Homo sapiens: one gene and its partner. The protein of the gene in region 2 interacts with the protein of the main gene of each other region in a biochemical or structural test. Each region holds a gene or a part of one and is shown on either strand. Other genes may lie near its edges.

Region 1 (7,037 bases), on a different chromosome or scaffold from region 2:
AAATACCTCGGGACCCAGGTGGAACCTTAAGCCCCACCCTGGGCCACAGGGAGAACCTTGAATCCGCTCCCAGGAGTCAGGGCTGGCAGGCCAAGAAGGCAGGGTCTGCAGTGGCCCTGAGTGCCTCCCCGGGACCTGGAAGCATATGGGGCCTGGATGGGACCCTACCACTCATCTGTGAAGTGGAAAGAAAAACTTCCTTCCAGGTCCCCTGGCTGTGGAGGGGAGGGGGTGAGAAATAGGGCCCAGGCCTTTTTAGAGAAAAAGGCAAAACAAAAAAGAACCTGTGTAACAGGGCTCCATGAGGCCGGGGAATGAGTGGCCAGTGTGCCTCCCAGCTCCTACCCCGCTGCTGCCCAGGAAGGAAACAGGGGTCACCCACAGGAGCAGTTTAAAGGGTCACTGCTGACTTAAGGGGTAGGGGCTAGGGAGTGGGTCGGCCCTGGGAGACCTGCGGTCGCTCACCAACCACACATCTCTCACAACCTCTTGGGCCTCGGAAAACCACAACCACCACTTCTCCACAAAGACCACAGATGGCCCAGAACACAGAAATGAAGCCCCAAGCAGCTGGGGACCCTCCCCAGCTTCCTATGCCCAGAGGCCTGAGCTGTACCTTGAAAGTTGGCATAGGGTTTGCCTCTACATAGAAGCCAGGGTTGCGTCCCTCATACAGGGCCCCGTAGTCAGGCTCCTGGAAACAGGACACAATGGGATATGTTAATGCCCCAGAGCCCAGAGGTAGAAAGCAGCTACTGGTTTCTGGAGCAGCTTCCCTTTCCCCCAGTGCAGCAAACTTGCACCTGATCCACAGGGATCCTTCGACCTCAGTAGAGACGGCTTCAGAGGCCTCAGGCCCGGCCTCACTGTTCCCTTTCCTTTCTTCACATTCTTACATGTAAGGCCCAGCCCAGGATTCTAAAATCTCTCAGGTCCTAAATGCCCAAACTCCCAAGTATTTCTGAGCTATGTGCAGGTGGGCCCTTCACAGACTACCCATATTCAGTGCTTTAGTTCAGTGGCTTGTTGGTTCACTGCTGAGCCCAAAGTCAGGAAAAGCCTTCCCACTCCCCACATTCCTCCTGCCGCTCCTCTCCATCACTTGAGTCCCAGGTGCCAGTGGACAACAGGCCTCTCTCTCCCCAGCCAGCCCTGTCTACTGACGACAGCAGTCTCTCAACTGATCTTCTGGTCCTAGACCCCTTCCTTCTGTCCAGGGCCCTTATCACCAGCTGTGCTGCCATGGGTCCTGACTTTTTCCCTCACTGGTCTCACCTCCTGTGGCTCTGCCCTCCATACCATCCACCAGGCGGAGGCTCCACAACCACTCTTGGGTAGCCTCATCTCATCTGCCCTAGGACAGAGTCCAGGCCAAGCCCAGGTGGATGAGTTTCCACTGTGTGCACCTCTCCCAGTGTGAGCCCCAGAACCTCCTCACTCCACATCTTGACTCATGAGGAACCCTCTGCTTATGTGCCTGTCCCCATCCTTAAAGATGCTGCTCAGATGTCCCCTCCTGCAGACACCCTCCTGGTACCCACACTGTGGCTCCCAGCTGGAGTCAGGGGCCCTCCCACGAACTTCTACAACACACCAGGTCTTGCTGTTACACACATCCAGAGACTGGTAAGATTCTGGGTCTCTCCTGCCTCCCCTGCCATGCCCCGTCTACCACAGCCCCCTCACAGCTGTGCCAATCTTCTCCAGTGCCTCCTCGTTGATGGGATAGCGCAGCTTCATCTTGCGGTATAGCGGGTGTTTCTCATAGTAGCTGATGAGGTCAACAAGGCTGTCGAACTCCGAGTTCCCTAGCATCACTGTCTGGCCCTCTTGCTGGACACGGCAATGCTTGATCTTGCCCTCAGCCCTTCACAAGGACAAAACAGTCACACAGGGTCAGGGCAGCTCAGACCCAAGCAAGGCCCCACAACCCAGTGCCACACCCCTCACCGGAAAGAGATGGCATATGAGTTGGGTTCATTCCGCTTCCGCACCAGGAAGGCCCCATCACGAGGGACGCGCATTAGCATGTGCTCAGCCTGTGCTCTGGTCAGGCTCGCGTGGTACCACCTGAGAACAGGCAGAGTCAGGCCCGGCCAGCACCACCCATGGCCCTGCCCTGCCTTGTCCGCCCCCAGGCCCTTCCCTCACTCTTTGCTCTCGTGGGCGTTGGTCTGTGGGACAGGCTCTGAAAGTCGCATCTCAAACTCATTACAGCGCAGGGGCACCTGCTGGTAGTGCGTGATGAGGTCATAGAGGGAGTCAAAGACGAGGTTGTCTGTCAAGAAGAACTTGGGGGTCCCAGCATCTTGCCGGGAGTGGATACGGCAGTGCTGGACTTTCCCGTTCCGCCTGTGGAAGACACAGAGTGAGGGAGGCTGGGGAAAACAGGCCAGGGCCCCAAAGACCAAGTTCCACCCCAAATGAGGGTGGAACTCAAGGAGGGAGCCTCAAGGAGGGAGGCCAATCTCCTGAGGAGCTCAGGTGTGGGCAGTCACATGAACCAAAGGTGTGGGCTTCAAATGAACCGAAAAGGGAGGGGTATGGGGGGGGGGTGAGACAGAGAGTGTGTGTGTGTATGTAGGTGAAATTATGTTCCATGTAAAGCCTAATTATTGTCCTGGATCAAAGGCTCAAATGTTAACTGATTATCTCTGGGTGATGTGATGTCTGTGTACACACGCTGACTGAACATACGCATCTGCATGGGAAGTGTTACCAGAAAGAGAGCGTGTAGTCGCCCACGAAGGTCTCACTCTCTCGCACGAGGAAGGAGCCGTCAGGGGCTCCGGTCTCGATGCAGTACTCAGTAAGCAGGCGCTCAGCGATGTGACGCCCGTCACGCCCTGCCCCTAGCTTCCCATGGAACCACTTCTCATTGGAGTGCAGCTCTGTGCTGCTGCTGACCTGTCAGGGGAAGGCAACAGCAAAGATACTGTGACCCTGGCCCAGGCCTGACCTGGCCCAGCCCCCAGACCTGAGCTGGTTCCTCACCTCCTTGGGCTCCTCCTCATCCTCGTTGCCCTGGTCACTGCTGGTCTCCTCAGAGTAGTAGATCTTGCTGCTGGTCAGAACAAAGTAGTGGGGATACCATTCCTGGAACAGACCAAAGAGGGACTTGTGAGCCAGGGTCCTCACACCCACTGGCCTACCACCCCCAGCCTGGCCCAGTCCTCACGTGGTTCACAGGGTCCTCCAGGTAGAGGATGCCATTCTTGATAGAGTTGCTGATGTCGTTCTCAGAGTACATCATGGATGTAGGCACCTCCTCGTAGGCACTGCCCTCAGCCAGCTTCTTGTGCTGTAGGGGCAACCAGAACAGGGCAATGCAGACCCCAGTCCTCACCCCACCTCCTCACCCAGGTTTAGGCCCAACAGCTGAAGCCATGGCCTGGGCAAGGCACTGAGAAGTGTGGGGCTTCCGCAATAAGCCCGCCACCCCACCTTGATGAGGATCTTCCTCTTAAGCTGGTTGGGTGAGGGGAGCCCGTCGGCAGAGATCTCCACGGGCTTGGTGAGGAGTGTGTCCCCCAGCACCTTCTTGAAGTATTGGGCCATGTTTCTCTGCTGGGCAATGCTGCAGTGGTCCTCAATGGACAGGATGACTGGGTACCTGCGGGATGGGGGACAAGCACAGTGAAACAGATTCTGCAATTCTCTGGGTCTAAGTAGCCCCTCACAGTGAGCTGTTGGAAGCCAAGGGCCTGGGGGCTTCTTGTCTGTAAAAACTATCCCAGAAAAGAGGCAGGCCATAGCCACTGGTGGGGCAGAGAGGGGTTCTACAGCTGTGGCAGCAGTGGAAACCAAAGGGTGGCAACTGATGCAGTCCCGAGCTGGCCCAATTATGGAGGCTGCTCAGCAGTGCAAGAAAAATGTTTCACACCAAAGAGGCCAGGAGAGAGGAGAAGCCTCCAAAGTTAGCTGTTAGAGCCCTGGTGAGCTAAGGGAGACCAGTGACCACAGTTTAAGCAGTAAACAGAATTGAAGGAATGGGACACAGGGAACAGAGACAATCTTCTGGGCTGTGAGGGCAAAGGAGTTGGCAGGACACTGGCCTAAAGAAACCAGGGCATGTTTTCTGAAGATGAGAAGAGCATGTGTTCTACAGTCTAAAGGACCCATGAAGAAGAGAGTGGGCCCAACACGTAGGAAACAGAAAGTGTAACTTGGGAAGCAACAGCTCAAGCAGGGAGCAGGTGACGAGGAGAGGCCAAGAGGAAGGACAAAGATGAAAGGCTGAGGGAGAGGGGACAGGGCATTTGAGGAGTCTTTCTGCCCTCTGTCCCTCTAGAACGAGAGACCTGGAGCCAAGTTAACCCCTGGGTCATCCAGCCTCCGACTCACTCTGAGGCCACAAAGGCATGCTCCTTGATGGTGTGCAGGACATCTGAGAACTTGATCTTGGTGGTAAGGGTGTGCCCATGGTAAATAACTGGCATCCCATCCGGGCCGTCCCAGCAGTCCACTGGGGAGCAACATCACCATGGTCAAGCGGGCAGGCCTCCCATCTTCCCTCCCCCAGCCCTGGACCCCACGCACACTCAATGCAGCGACAGCCCATCCGCAGGCAGCGAGCATAGGCTTCCAAGGAGGACTCACTGGAGAACTGGTCCCCGGTCAGGTACCTGGATAGGCAAGGAGAGGCAGGTAGGTATGGTCAGATGGGCCCTCCTGGGGAAGAAGCTGGGTGGGCCTGAAGGAGCCACACTCACGTGTTGTGCGAGGAGGAGATCCAGTAGTGGGAAAGAGGGTTGTTCATGGTGTCCGGGCATACTGCATCCAGCTGCGAGTTCCACACACTGTTCTCTTTGGAGAACAGGAAGGTGACAAACTGTCCAGAAACATGTGGAAGGGAAGAGACAGTGAGTCCCTGCCCTGTCCAACCCAAGATGGTAGGTTGGGGGTAGGAGAGAGAGTGCTCTGTCCCAACTGGGGGTGGGCAAGGTGCACAGTAGGTAGAAACAAGGTGGCATCCCTAAGGAGCGTCTAGCTCCTGGAGCCCGGGTGGGGTCCTGGTCACCCCTACTCATTCTCTTGACAAAAAATGGGTGAAACATCGGGCTCACCTCATCCAGGAAGAAGTATGGCTCCTCGATCTCTCGTAAGGGGTCTCGGAGGAAGCTGAGCATGAACTCCTGCACCTGGAGGCGATCAACAGCCCACAGCTCCTGATGGGGTAGGGAGGGCAGGGGATGAGAGAAGCCTCCAGTCAGGGATGAGCCCAGCCCCCCACAACCTACCAGCCTGGGCCAATGTCAGCCCAGCCATACCCCCTGGTAGTCAAGAAGGAACTGCTGGAACTCAGGAAGGGACACTCGGCAAAGCTCCGGCCGCTCCCCAGCCCTGCAGGGAGAGAAGGTAAGCTAGCTAGTATGGTCAACAGACAACAAGGTGCCCCACGGAAGGCAGAACCCAACTCCCAGCCAGCACAGCTTCCCAGAATGGTCCAGCATGGTTCCCTACTCCCACTGCCTCCCACCTGGATCAAGAATCGCCCAGTGGAGAGATGAAGGGGGCCCAGGGAAAACCCCACCTCCCCACTCCAAACCAAACCTCAGAGTACTGGCTTCCAAGAAGGGGAGGTCCATCTGCAGGAAACAGAACCTGGTCAGGGCAAGACCCCTGGGAGGCCATGTGGGAAATGGGCTAGTAAGAAGGCAGGCTAGAGCAGCAGATGGGGGCAGGCCTCAAGAGGAGAAGAACTGGAGAAATGGCACCCAAAAGCCCCTAAGCAGGGCAGCAGGGCTGAGGCAGGCAGAGCTGGGGTGTGGGGTGGAAGAGCAGGGGCAGGGGTTGAGGGAGGGCAGGTGGCTCATGCACCGTCTTCTGGGCGCTGTACATGAGGCTGCGGTACAGCTGAGCAAACTGCCCGTAGGTGATGTCCCCGCTGCGCTGCTCCAGGTCCTGCATGGTATAGAGCAGGAGTGCCAGTCAGGCAGTCAGGCCCCCAGCTGAAGGGCTCTTGGCTTCCCCTGCCCCCATCTACAGACAGCCCTGGGTGGCACTTACCGTCAGCCGCTCTCGGAGGAAGCGCATGTTGGGGACCCGGTAGTTGACCTGGGACAGCATGTTCTTCAGGTCCTTGGCTGATATACTGAGAAAACAGGGACATCCCCAGTGGTCTCATCCAGCTTCTCATGACCTCTGACCTGTGGGTCGAGCCCACCTGGGGCTGGACAGGTAAACAACACTATTCTGGGAACCTGGAGGCCTGAGGGCAAGACTGGATCAGAACCCATGGGGTGAGGTTAGTCCCTTCCTTTCTTTGGACCTCAGTTCCTCATCTGAGCAAAAAAAAAAAAAAAAAAAACAAAAACAAAACAAACAAAAAAAACCTGTAATTCTGGCAAGGAAGATGTGAACAGATTCAGTAAAGTGGGTCAGGCATGGGAGGAAGAAAAACCACACTCCAGGCCTCCCCTCCTACCGGCACTGCTGAGGCCTGTGCCAAGGTGGCAGTCAGCCTATCCAAGACAGAAGGCAGGGCTCACTCACAACTTCCCTGTTGGGGGCAGCATGGCAGCAGGTCCCTACCTGCTGCCCACTGGGATGCTGGGAGTTTGGTCCTCAGAACCCACTAACCCATGAGAGGGAGGAAGGAGGAGGTGCATGCTCCACCAAATACAATGACTGGCAACTGGGCACCTCCTGGGGCTAGACAGGGCCTGGCTCCAGGAAAGAAACTGAGAGAACAAGCGCCCCTGCTCTCCAGGGGTGTCCTGCCCAGGATGTGAGGCTGGGGACACTGCTGGACCTGGCAACAGGATGGACAAGAAGGGGGAAGGGGGGGGCTTTCTCTCCTGGAAGGTGGTGTCAAGGAGGGGAGGGGAGGGTGGGACCACCTCCTCTGGGCCCCAAGAGCCTGGGAGGAGGCACCAAAATTCCCCGAGGGGGCTGAGCGCCACACTGAGTGGATCAAGCACTGCGGAGGGAGGGCTGGCTCTATATAGGCGCCCCCTCCTCTGATCCTCAGTCACCCAGGAGGTAGGTGCTATCAGGGTCCTTGTTTTCCAGTGAGGAAACAGAGGCCTTCTGGT
Region 2 (7,037 bases):
TATCATGCAATTTCTAGCCTGCAGGTAGATAAAGCAATTTTGCAGGACAGAGTAATTAGATTTCCATTCTATACACAGGAGGTAATGTGTGTGGGAAATGTGACTGTAGTTATCATGAAAAAATTACCTCAGTAGTTAATTGCCAAGTTACCAAAAAGTAATGATCGCACAATTACAACATACATATGGCATTTGCAAGCGACCGCTTTTAAAAAGGGTTTCTTCTTGATAATGTGCCCAGCCCCTGAACAGAGAACATCTGGCACTGTGCTGCTTGCCCCTCACCATCCACACTTAAGCCTTAAATTGCCCTTTTGCATTACCTGAAGACGAAAATGGGGTCACCACAGCTGTTTTTATCCATCAATTGCTATTTTATGCTCAGGCTTTAAAAGCCCAGGTTAACATCACAATTGAATAGTTAGTATGGTCGCAGAAATTTTATTTTTCATGGAATAAGCCTCTTTATCACAACAAGTTGGAAGGGGTTACATCGGATTGCTGTTTTCAGCTGGGGTTTAGGAGAGTGTTTTCTTTTGGGGAATACTAAGTAGGGTTCAAGGCCCCTGGGAGGAATGGCCACAGCAGAAGCAAGCCCTGTAGTTACAGGCATTCATTCAGTAGATACACAGGGAGTGGCAAGTGTGTACCAGACACTATTCTAATGGACAGAACACACCCAAGTCTTTTTGCCTTTATGAGTTTATGTTCTAGTGCAGGGGTGTTCAGTCTTTTAGCTTCCCTGGGCTACACTGGAAGAAGACGACTGTCTTAGGCCACACATAAAATATAGTAACACTAACGATAGCTGATGAGCTAAAAAAAAAAAAAATTGCAAAAAAATCTCATAATGTTTTAAGCTTCATGAATTTGTGTTGGGTCGCATTCAAAGCCGTCCTGGGCCACATGTGGGCTGCAGGTTGGATAAGCTTGTTCTAGTGGGTAGAAACACATAATAGATGGAATAAACAATGAATGTATGTAGGTGTTAAGAAAGGAAACAGGGAATAGCTAGGTGTTTAGAATAGGGAAGTCGGGGTCTGGCTCATGAAAAGGATCCCTTGCAGTGGTGGTCTCAGCCACCTGCAGTATAACTAGGCCTTCCTGCTTAGAACTCAAACTTCAGTCCTCACTTTGACTATTTTCTGGTCTACATCCTTGATTTTGTTGTTGTTGTTGTTGTTGAGACCGAGTCTCACTCTCTTGCCCAGGCTGGAGTGCAATGGAGTGATCTTGGCTCACTGCAACCTCTGCCTCCAGGGTTCAAGTGATTCTCCTGCCTCAGCCTCCCGAGTAGCTGGGATTACAGGCGCCTGCCACCACGCCCAGCTAATTTTTGTATTTTTAGTAGAGACGAGGTTTCACCATGTTGGCCAGTCTGGTCTTGAACTCCTGACCTCAGGTGATCTGCCCACCTCGGCCTCCTAAAGTGCTGAGATTACAGGTGTGAGCTACTGCGCCCGGCCCCTTGAAGATTTTTTATGCTTTCCTCCTCTATGCTATTTCTTTTCAACCATTCGTGTACCCTTTTGAAGCTTGTTTATTTTAGGGATCTACTGTGTACCAGCATATATGCCTGCCATTTTATTGAATTCCTTTCCAATCCTTTCAGTAACCCTCTGCAATGGGTATTACTATCCCTGTTTTACAGTCGTAGAAACTCAGTGTTGGTGGGGGTTAAAAACTCATCAGGATTCAAACCCGCATCTGACTCCGAAGCCTCCTCTGCCTTCTCTTCCCCAGTGCTTTTTTCACTCACTAGGTCACCAAAGTGCTTATTCTTAGACACTTGTAAAAGGACATTTTCTGTTGATTATGAACCTCTAACTTTGTTTTAAAAGTATGCCACATCCCAAGTGTTTTATGTATTTATTTATTTTCCTAGAGTAAGCCAGGGCTTTTGTTTTCTTCCCTTTAGATGCTCTGCTTCTGTACTGCCAGTGGATGTGCAGACACTAAACTCATCTGGGCCACCGTTTGGAAAGCTAGTGGTTCAGAGTTCTATAGATTCTAGTGCATTCAAGCACAATGGCACGGTTGAATGTAAGGCTTACAACGATGTGGGCAAGACTTCTGCCTATTTTAACTTTGCATTTAAAGGTAACAACAAAGGTATATTTCTTTTTAATCCAATTTAAGGGGATGTTTAGGCTCTGTCTACCATATCAGTCATGATTTTAAGTTCATTCCAACATTGACCATGTCATTTCTGGTAATACATGCATCACACCATACTGTCATCAAACTCACTAAGTTTCATTTTGTACTAGCTTGTTAAGTATATGCTTTTACCAGAGCAATTTTAACCATGCTACTTTATATATTTTATATGTATGTGTGTCTCTATTAGTTGTATATTTACAATTGTCTCCATTAAAAAGAGCTAGAGAAAGCAAATGGGGGAATATATTTACCTTACACCCAAACAGAATTAGAACAATCTAAAATTTAAATTCAATTAAAAATTTCAGTTATTTAAAATGAATTATTTTAACACTTTGCCAGACACTGTATCCAAAAGTTAACACTGCCTTTATGAAGTCATGTTAGCAAGTTATTTCTTTAAAATATTTAAAATTTGATTCATGTGTGACTAACTCTCTTAACAAGTTAAAAGATCTTTTGGGCAAACTGATGAATTGGTACAAAGTGGGAAGACAAAGAAACTGGGCACTTACTTTTTAGGCCTTCTTGGGGTTTTGTTTGTTTGTTTGTTGTTTTCGTTTTTTGAGTCGGCAAAGACTAGTGCCAAAAAGTGGCGTGTTTTCTCAGGTTTTGAGTAGTGAGGGGAAGAATCTTCCATGTTTTTCAGACAGGGCAACGAAAAGAATACCTTAAAAATGTTTTTTTTTTTTTTGGTTGTGAAAGACATTCATGCTCAGTGTAGAAAATTTGGAAAATACAGGAAAGCTTAAAGAAGAAAATATAAACCGTCCATAAAGGAAGCTTCTTTTTTTTAAAGTTGTACAAGGCAGGAATTTGATTGAAGTATAAAGTGCATTCAGATGTTGCTTTTCATTGAAAAACAGCATAAATTATTCCTTTTCTACAGAAATCTCAACTTCTATTCTGCAGTATTGTGGTTTCAAGTTATATTTTTAAAGATTCATTTGAATAACAAGAGTACAATGTAACCAAGGTGAAGCTCTGAGACTCACATAGCTTTGCATCCTGCCATGGGCTGTGAGTTGGGAGGTGGGGTCAGTTTGGGACTGAGTGGCTGTGGTAGAGATCCCATCCTGCCAAAGTTTGTGATTCCACATTTCTCTTCCATTGTAGAGCAAATCCATCCCCACACCCTGTTCACTCCTTTGCTGATTGGTTTCGTAATCGTAGCTGGCATGATGTGCATTATTGTGATGATTCTGACCTACAAATATTTACAGGTAACCATTTATTTGTTCTCTCTCCAGAGTGCTCTAATGACTGAGACAATAATTATTAAAAGGTGATCTATTTTTCCCTTTCTCCCCACAGAAACCCATGTATGAAGTACAGTGGAAGGTTGTTGAGGAGATAAATGGAAACAATTATGTTTACATAGACCCAACACAACTTCCTTATGATCACAAATGGGAGTTTCCCAGAAACAGGCTGAGTTTTGGTCAGTATGAAACAGGGGCTTTCCATGTCACCTTTTTGGGTACACATAACAGTGACTTTAAGGAACTCCAGTGGCTTCCTTTGTTTTGTTCCACCTGAAACAATGAGTTTTCTGTGAAATTGCGCCCCTTTTGATAGGTTTGCCATAGAGAACATCGTAGGAAAATGTCTCTGGACAACATTGTTTTTAATTCCTTTATTGATTTTGAAACTGCACAAATGGTCCTTCAATTCCACCACCAGCACCATCACCACTTACCTTGTTGTCTTCCTTCCTACAGGGAAAACCCTGGGTGCTGGAGCTTTCGGGAAGGTTGTTGAGGCAACTGCTTATGGCTTAATTAAGTCAGATGCGGCCATGACTGTCGCTGTAAAGATGCTCAAGCGTAAGTTCCTGTATGGTACTGCATGCGCTTGACATCAGTTTGCCAGTTGTGCTTTTTGCTAAAATGCATGTTTCCAATTTTAGCGAGTGCCCATTTGACAGAACGGGAAGCCCTCATGTCTGAACTCAAAGTCCTGAGTTACCTTGGTAATCACATGAATATTGTGAATCTACTTGGAGCCTGCACCATTGGAGGTAAAGCCGTGTCCAAGCTGCCTTTTATTGTCTGTCAGGTTATCAAAACATGACATTTTAATATGATTTTGGCAATGCTAGATTATAAACTGCTTGGAAGATTTTTTTACCCAGACTGTTGTTCTCTCTTGCTAGATTTTGTTTTCCTCATTGTTCTTAAGAATGCAGATTTTAATTTTATCATTATGGGGTAGAACAGCCCAGGACATACCCTAGTTATTGTCGTATTTGTAACATCAACGACATCAGCCTCTTGAATATCTCATCCCGACCAGAAGGCTTCTGTTATCTTGTAAGCTTTATACATTTCTTGATCATATGTAGCCACTGAAAGGGTTAATATTAATTTGCATACTACAATTTAAAACAGGCGCCTAAGCCTACTGGTTCTCAAATATACACCAAATGAGGCAAACATTTCACTTCTCTAAAAATAAGTTTCCAATTTGAAGCCTTAGTTGAAGTTCCCATCAAGGATGTCTGTGATGTTTGCAGAAAGTATTTCAGTTGAAAGAAACAAAGATGTGTAAAATGAGCTGTTTCTGGAGATCCACGATAAAGTTGACAGCCTTATATCATGTCTTCCAATAATCCCCATAAATGTTGCTTCACCACATCATGAATTGTTCATGAGAAAATTTCTTACCCAAGTTAATTAGTTGCCTGTTACTTCTAAACTACAGTTTAAACATTCATAGCACCAAAAAATTTTTCAACTAGTAGCGCTCAGAACACAGGTCATTTTAGGTTTTCACTCACTTTCCAGTCTTGTCCCAGCTGGCTGCTCCTTGTGGCTGATTTTCCCACTATGCCACAGTTTGTGCCTTCATTATTTCCATAATAACGTTACAGAGAGTGTGTGAAGCCCTGCTGTAAACAGAAGTGAACCAGAGGATTCACGTAGGAAGCTTGATAATAGTAGAATCTTTGAAAGCAGTAACTTCTCTCTGTAAAACCAGCAGTCATGCTTGGCTCCAAATACTAATGTCACTTAGAAATTCAGGTTAAAAGAGGCTTGCTTGTTTTATGTTACTCCACATAAGGCTGCTTTTTTGATAAGCAGTGTTAATATATGGGATTGTATTGGGACTAAGTAGTCTGATCCACTGAAGCTGAATATTAATGGCCATGACCACCCTTGGGTATTTTTATGGGAGGCAGAATTAATCTATATATCTCACCTTCTTTCTAACCTTTTCTTATGTGCTTTTAGGGCCCACCCTGGTCATTACAGAATATTGTTGCTATGGTGATCTTTTGAATTTTTTGAGAAGAAAACGTGATTCATTTATTTGTTCAAAGCAGGAAGATCATGCAGAAGCTGCACTTTATAAGAATCTTCTGCATTCAAAGGAGTCTTCCTGGTAAGACTGATTTACATAAATAGTTAGCTGTTGACAGGCAGTTCATGGGGTCATAAGGGTTTGCAATCAAGGCTGATTCTTTAAAAAATGAACTGAGGTACTCTGAGGTATGAAATCAAAATTATTAAATCATTTAAATGTGATTAACAGTTTAGAAAGTTAAATTGTGTTTTTAAAGATTCAAACCTAGATTTTTGCTGATTTTTTAAAAATGTATTTTCAGTTTTCTTCTACACTTTAGTTCCATGCAACTGAATGCATTCTATATCTGTTTCTCTTACGGTTCTGTCCTGCATGTATTTCCATTTATACTATTGAGCTTGGTACTACATGCATGTTTCCAGTGAGATACTGTTTATAGGGAAAATGCTAAAGCCTCTCAAGTTGCCACAGTAAAGTCCCTTTAAAACCTTTAGCAGAATGACAAAGAGCTCTGAACATATCTCCACATGTAGGCTTCTTGCCATCGACCTCTGGATTATTCCTGTATACCTTGCCTCTTGCCCTTTTTATTTCATCATGCTATTAAAAGACATAACTACTCCAGCACATTTTTTAAAAATTCTGGACATTATTCTCATCTCTTTCATCATTGATGCCATTCTGAATTTGAATCATGTATAAAGAGCTTTGAGTTTGACTTACAACCAGAAAAGAATTCTTCTCATATCTTGCCTATTCTTTCTTTGGAAATGCTCTTAAGGGCCACCATTTGAGAAGACTTCCTAGATGTACCCAGTCCAACAGAAGTCATGGTTATTTTGCCCAGTCCCCTATACTGTATATTGCTGCAGTTGTGTGGTAGATTTCTCCTATCCTTTTCATGCACTTTATATCCACTGCATCTTGCAATGGCAAGACATTGCCTCCTGAACTCTTAACACCAGGTCCTCAAGGAGACCTCAGTAAATATTATTGATGGGCAATTACCCCTTAAAGCCATTTTCTGTACCTCTGGCTAAAGTTTAAAACCCCAGGTGAAACTTTTTATTTTTTTTTAATCCTATAAACTTGAGTAGTTTAAAGTGGTAGTAGAAACTGTACAAAACCACTTTTTGTTAGTTTCTCCTGGGCATGTGCTCATTATATGAAGAAATGAGCCATTTTGCTTCTTTCCGAAACCTTGGCCCTATATATATCCTTTAACTTTCTGATATAATGGCCTAAATTGTTCAATCCTGTGTGATGTTCTTTGTGCTTTGGGATCCCATATGGGATTGGAACCACCAGCACACTCTGAAGGAGATTGTTGTCATGGTGTTTCTATGCTAATCAGAAGCAGGAAGTACTAGAAATCTTGAAGAGTCTCCAGCCAAATGTTGCAGATTGAAGAGGTCCAGATGGTTCAGAAAATCATCCAAATTATTGGTGTTTATCTGAACCAACTTGATTTTTTTTTAAACCTTCCTCCATCAGTCACTATATGTTAACGATCTCTGCCTCCTGCATAACACGTCTTGGAAGCTCTTCTTTGTCTTTCTTTCATCTTG

What was found. Proteins that work in one complex are often made in the same cells at the same time.
Region 1: the proteins of KIT (region 2) and PLCG1 form a complex in vitro, tested with the Homo sapiens proteins (3 studies listed by BioGRID and IntAct, with this or other methods).

Annotation. Positions count from the first base shown.
Region 1 is NC_000020.11:41,161,509-41,168,545, reverse strand, and holds part of PLCG1 (1-phosphatidylinositol 4,5-bisphosphate phosphodiesterase gamma-1), read right to left. Parts: intron 6,095-7,037; coding exon 6,010-6,094; intron 5,905-6,009; coding exon 5,821-5,904; intron 5,589-5,820; coding exon 5,554-5,588; intron 5,344-5,553; coding exon 5,271-5,343; intron 5,169-5,270; coding exon 5,067-5,168; intron 4,832-5,066; coding exon 4,713-4,831; intron 4,626-4,712; coding exon 4,540-4,625; intron 4,466-4,539; coding exon 4,345-4,465; intron 3,614-4,344; coding exon 3,445-3,613; intron 3,302-3,444; coding exon 3,179-3,301; intron 3,097-3,178; coding exon 2,995-3,096; intron 2,908-2,994; coding exon 2,720-2,907; intron 2,353-2,719; coding exon 2,152-2,352; intron 2,071-2,151; coding exon 1,951-2,070; intron 1,868-1,950; coding exon 1,687-1,867; intron 695-1,686; coding exon 617-694; intron 1-616. UniProt on the Homo sapiens protein: Mediates the production of the second messenger molecules diacylglycerol (DAG) and inositol 1,4,5-trisphosphate (IP3). Plays an important role in the regulation of intracellular signaling cascades.
Region 2 is NC_000004.12:54,723,939-54,730,975, forward strand, and holds part of KIT (mast/stem cell growth factor receptor Kit isoform 1 precursor), read left to right. Parts: intron 1-1,918; coding exon 1,919-2,112; intron 2,113-3,279; coding exon 3,280-3,386; intron 3,387-3,477; coding exon 3,478-3,604; intron 3,605-3,884; coding exon 3,885-3,989; intron 3,990-4,072; coding exon 4,073-4,183; intron 4,184-5,396; coding exon 5,397-5,547; intron 5,548-7,037. UniProt on the Homo sapiens protein: Tyrosine-protein kinase that acts as a cell-surface receptor for the cytokine KITLG/SCF and plays an essential role in the regulation of cell survival and proliferation, hematopoiesis, stem cell maintenance, gametogenesis, mast cell development, migration and function, and in melanogenesis.